Linked DNA regions of Homo sapiens: region 2 is linked to region 1. Evidence: fine-mapped expression QTL. A gene starts in region 1. The other region holds a variant in brackets. All regions are shown on one strand. Distances are between the middles of the regions. Region 1 holds the start of TBC1D14 (TBC1 domain family member 14). Region 2 overlaps TBC1D14 (TBC1 domain family member 14).

Region 1 (2,500 bases):
TCTGGCTCCCAGCGCTGGGTCTCTCCTCTTGCCCTCAAGTCCCCAGAGTCTAACGACAACCCAATAACGTCAAATACCAACTATTTGCCAGGCCCAGGGAAAATAGCAGTAAACAAGATAAGCCCGGCTTTCCTCATGGAACCCACAGCCTAGAAGGGGAATGGAGACCCACTGCCCGTCAACAGGGGCTCCTCACATACTCTCTACCAGCTCATGGAGGGCTCTGGGGCAGGGAACCTGGCTTCTGCCCCTCTCAGCTACTGACCCACCCGGGTCCTTGGGCGGAGGGCTTCATCTCTGAGCCCGTTTCCCGCTTTGTACAATGGCTCTGATCATAGATCCCGTCTCTGGAGTTTGTGCAATGTTGAGGCCAAATATGCAGATAACGCCAGGCCAGTGGCTTCCAAACCCGCGTGCACATTACACAGCTTCCCAAACTGATGATGCTTCCATCTCATCTTCAGAGACTGTGACTTAATCGGCCTGGGCTTCAGAATATTAAAAGCTCCGCAGGCAATACTAAAGTGCAGACCAGTTTGGGAACTACAGCGCCAGGCACCGTGTCACAGCGCGATAAGAGAGAACGTTCGGAAAAGCCCTTTATAGATTAAGAGACTGAGGCTGGCTGGGAGGACGCCACGGCGCCGCTCCCAAGACCACCGCGGCGGGGCCTGAGCTCCGGTGTCACGCAAAGCTTCCCTTCCGCGGCGGGGCCCGGGCCGTCTCCCGCACACCGGCCGGGGCAGGGGAGCCCCATCGATGCGCTCCGCCGCTCGGCTCCCTACGCCTGAGCCCTGCCCGCTCGAGCCCCTTCCCCCTCCCGGCCGCTTCCCACTTCCAAGATGGCTGCGGGTGGAGCCGACCAGGTAAGGGGCCCCCTGTCGGATGTCCGTGGGGGCCCTGCGGGCACAAAGGCCCGCTCAAGGCAGCTCCTCGCCACTCCGGTTGGTTCTCCGGCAAAAAAAAAGGGCCGGCGACGCCGCTCCGGAGGCCCGCGGCGGGCGGCCCCCGGAAGAGGGACAGCCGGGCGAGCGCCGAGCTCCAGACGCGGCGGCACGGGCGGAAGAACGGGCGCGGGCCGGCAGGGGGCGGGGCGCAAGTGCGTGGGGGCGTGCCCAGGGGGCGGGCGAGGGGGCGGGGCGAAGCGAGGGTGCGCGCCGCTGTTCGCCGCGGGCTGCTCGCGCGCACCTGCGGGTCGGACCCGCTGCCTACCGCGTGCCCGGCGTCCTCGTCGCGCGAGTTGCCGGTCCCGCGGGGCCTGGGCTGCGGGCCCACGGGTCCCGGGGATGGCGTCGGAGCCGCGCTAACTCCGGTACTGAGAGCCTCCCGCGAGGGCCGGGCCGCGGGCCGCGAGGGAGGGCAGGGCGCGCGGGGCCGCCACCTGCTGCAGCGCCGGCCGAGGCGGGGAGCGGCCGGGGCGAGGCAGGTCGCCGGGCGCGGGTCCTGCTGGGTGTCCCTCGCCGCGCGGCCGCGGCTCCTGCACGCCAGGGCAGCGCGTGCGTGGCGCCCGGGGTGCCGTTACGGGGCCTCCGGGGCGGGGGCGACTCTCGGGACTCGGCGGCCCTCGCGGAGGCGCGCGCTGTGTCCCGCTCCTTTACGGAACTTGACGAAAAGTTTTCCTACTCCGACGCGAGGCTCCCGGCCTGAGAAGAGGCGCCTCGGTGCGCCAGACCCCGACCCCGGAGCCCCCTTCCACCTCGGACCCTCAGTCCCCAGGCAGCGGACCCTCCTCCTTGGAGCCCCTGACCCCGCTTTCATCTCTGACCCCTCTACCCCTGGAGCCCCTGACCCGCGAAACCCCCTTTCATCTCGGAGCCCTGACCTCCTTGGACCTCCACCCACGCGAACCGTCTGTCCCTGGGCTAGGGAATCTCTCTGCCTCCGCCTTGGAGCCTCCCATTACCGGGCCGCGAAGACCCTGGCCCGGGGACTGTCTCGGGGCCGGGGTAGCTGCCTTGAGGAGTAAGTCCGGGGACTCCTGGTCTCCCTCCCGCCAGGAGTCTCTCTAGGCTGTGGGTTGCGGTCCTGATGGGAACAGCTGGTCAGGAGGATAGGAGAATGACCCTGTGGACTCCAGAGCCAGCCTCTGCGAGCCCCGGGGTGACCGCGCCTGACCAGGCCACGTGAAGTCGTTTCTGTCCTAAAGTTGCATAGGACGCCGTTTTCTCTAGCGTGGAATTGGAAGCTTTGCTTGGGAAGGTTTTATAGGCACCGGTGCGTTTTGCCCCTACTGGAGGTCCCTGGGCATCACCTTGGTTATTTCACGCACTGAGGCTAGATGAGGAGGGTAGTCGTGGTGGTGTCTTGGGGACAAAATGCTCACTGTCTTGTCCCCAGTATTGTAGGATGTTGGCACCTAGTTGCTGTCTTGCCTAGCTTTTATAGCGGTGGGTTGCCTGTTGGAAACTGGTGGTTGCTTTGTCTGGACCGGGCTAGTCCTTACAGCAGTCTTAGAACACTTCCTGTTGCCCAGTTTATCTGGCCAGTACCAACCCATATC
Region 2 (2,926 bases), 78 kb after region 1:
CCAGAGCTCACTAGTGCGACTATTTTTGTGCAATTTCTTTTGGCAACACGTTTCTCAGCTCTCGGGTGATCTTTAAGGCAGAAGCTGGCTCTCCGCCTGTCGGCGCGCGTCCCCGGTGTTTACGGCCGGTGGGGCCGTACCACGGGGACGCCCCAGCCCCGCCCCTTGTGCCCGCCCCTCGCCGCTCATCAGCCCCGCCCCCTTGGGAGTCTCCAGCCAGGCCTGACGCGCCGAGCCGGCAGCGCGGATCGCCTCGCTGTGTCTGCGCGCGATTGAGCGGCCTGCCGCCCCGCCCCGCCCCGCGAGTCTGAGGAGCCGCCGCGTCCGCCCGCCCGCCCGCGGTCCGGGAGGGAGGGAGGGAGGCCGGCCCTCCGCTCGCTGGGCATGGAGCCTCCGGCCGCGCGCCTCTAAGGCCCCGGCGTTCATGGTGAGTCGGGGTGCGGGCCGGTGCCTCTCCCTGCGCCCCAGGCCTGCCCGGTCCCGTGGGCCTGTCCTGTCCTGGGCCTGCCAGCCCTGCGGCCCCGCGCAGGTGGAGGGTGCGAGTGTGCATGTGTGCGGTTGTGCGGGTGTGCGAGCATCACGTGTATCTGTCCTCAACAGCCGAAGCTTGCTGTGCATGCTGCTGATGCGCTCTCCTCCCTGGTACTCTTTGTGTCTGTGTTTCCACGTATTTTCTTCTGGTTCACGTTTACTAGGACGACGAGAGACAGCGTGAGCGAGCACGTCCTTTGAGTCCTCCTTACCCTGTTTTCAGAGCCGGGCCAGGCCCAGCAGCCCCCTTAGAGGTCAGAAGGGCCTCGCCTGCGATCCGATGAGCCTTTGTATGGAGATGAGACTGCGCTCCGAGCTCTAGAGCCCAATGAGGTGGTCAGGTTGCAACAGCAACCGGGCGTGTTAAAACCTAGTTCCTTTGAATATGTTTCATTCACCAGCCCGCATATTAACTTTTGATGCTCTGGGAGGAATATGACTATTAGAAAAGGACTCCTGAGAGTGCTTCCCAGAATGCCAACATTCCCAGTAACTTAGAGAACGCTTTCCAGGAGGGGACTGCAGCTTGTTAAAGAACCCAGGCCAGAGGAACCACTCAGATGTTCTCAGTGGCTTTACTTACTGTGAGGTCAGGCTTCAGGGGTTAGCCGGG[G/A]CTGCCTTTTGGAAGGTGGGACCTTTCTAAGACCTGTGCAGGCCATTCTTCCCCCTCAAAATGGCAAAACAGCCCCTCCCAGATGCTAAACTGGGCTCCCCCCTCCAAGACAATTGCTTTTACAAATGGCCAAGTGTGAGACCAGCCGCGGTGTTGCGGACACTTTCAGTTTCGTGCCCTTTTCCACAAGCAACCCTCTTAGAGTGGAATGTTGTGAAGAGTAATTTCATAGTATATAGTGACAGTCATACTCCTATCATTTCTGGGCACCTGCTTTGGCTCTGCAGCTTATGCTGGTTCTCATTTAATCTTCAAGTGTAACAGATGAGGAAACAGGCTTGTGGATGGAGGAGGAGCTCAAGGTCATTCTGCTGGTGGTGCTGGCTCAGACCAGGCCTGCCGCTGTCCCCCAGCGCTTCCCTGGGTCCTCAGCCTGTGCAGATGTGGTGGCCGTGCTGTCACAGCATTAGTTCAAGTCAGTCTTTTGATAGGTACCACTCGGATGGCCAGCCTGCCTTGGCAGCTTTATTCCAGGCGCGCTCCCAAATCCTCAGGTTATTTTCACTGGTGAATCTTGATACTGCAGACAGCGGGGTCGGAGATTTAAGCACAGGATTTGACTGATGACCCTTTCCTCTTCTAGGTAAAATAGATTTCCAGGGAGCCAGAGGCTCCTTCCTGGAAGTCAGGGGGCTTCCAGTAGCAGGTTATTGACATCATTGGCTGTTTTGTAGTGTTCCTCCAGTTCATAAGTAGCATTGATGACCTTTCTTGTCTTTCTACCAGGAGTACTTTCTTTTTTCTTTCTTTCTTTCTTTCTTTTTTTTTTTTTTTTTTTTTTTGAGACAGGGTCTTGTCCTGTTGCCCTGGTGCGGTTATGGCTTACTGCAACCTTGAACTCCTGGGCTCAAGTGATCCTTGTCTCAGCCTCTTGAGTAGTTGGGACCACAGGCACAGCACCTCTGTGCCAGGCTTAGGAATACTTCTTCATTGTTTGAGAATCATGATCCTTTCTTTTCGCTCTTAAAACAAATGTGCATTGAAGCAGGCTTTTCCCCCGCTTTTTAAACCAACAAACGTTAAACCTAATTCAGGAGCCTCGTGCCCTTCTTGTCTTTAGCACTGTGCAGATCACACGTGGAATGTAGACCCTGCCCCTGGATGCGTCTGAGGGGCTCCCCATACCTCATAGTCTCTCCTCTGGCTCTCCTCTCTCTCCTGGGGCTTGTCCCAGCACCTCTGGGTAACGTGTTGAGACCTTCAAATCTAGAGCAAAACAACTTTGACTCTGCACCATTCCCGGTTCAAATCCTGGTGCTAGCCTGCTTGTGGGTGTCTCTTGGCCACTGCTTCTGCTGTCAGAGTGCCTCTTCCTCTTGGCCTCTAGCCCACGTCTTACCTGTCTGTCCACTCAGCTGGCCCCTTTGTGAAAGCTTCCCATGTCCCCCTGGCCTCAGGCATCCTGCCCTTCCTCCCACAGTGTGTGGCTCGCCCCTCCTGGCACATCTCACGGTCTCACCTGTGTGGGAGCCTCTGCCTGCATCGTATTGCCCCTGTCGAGTGAGCCCTGCTGGGTTGGAGATTGAGGATCTCCTAAACTGCCAGGCCCGCGTGGTCCCTTCACAAATTAGTTTCCTCTTTTCCACATGGCCCCTTCCCTCTTGCCCTGCATGCTGAGTCTCATGCAGAGCCCTCTGCATGAGACTGGGGCTCTGCTCAGGCACCCTGCCTCCCTGCCTTTTTTCTTCAACCTTAGCTGGGTCATCAGACCACACCCCACAA

What was found.
Region 2: its variant is fine-mapped to the expression of TBC1D14 in whole blood (INTERVAL, PIP above 0.99).

Annotation. Positions count from the first base shown.
Region 1 is chr4:6,908,640-6,911,139 of GRCh38, forward strand. It overlaps TBC1D14 (TBC1 domain family member 14), which reads left to right and starts at 1,187. Exons shown (of 14, transcript NM_020773.3): 1 at 1,187-1,312. RefSeq lists a silencer at 554-1,613 and an enhancer at 1,854-1,923.
Region 2 is chr4:6,986,923-6,989,848 of GRCh38, forward strand. The region is part of intron 3 of TBC1D14 (TBC1 domain family member 14); the gene reads left to right. Among named protein-coding and RNA genes, the nearest start is that of CFAP184, 55 kb to the right of the region's middle. RefSeq lists enhancers at 1-549, 655-704 and a silencer at 145-554. The variant G/A (reference allele first, on the strand shown) is at 1,145.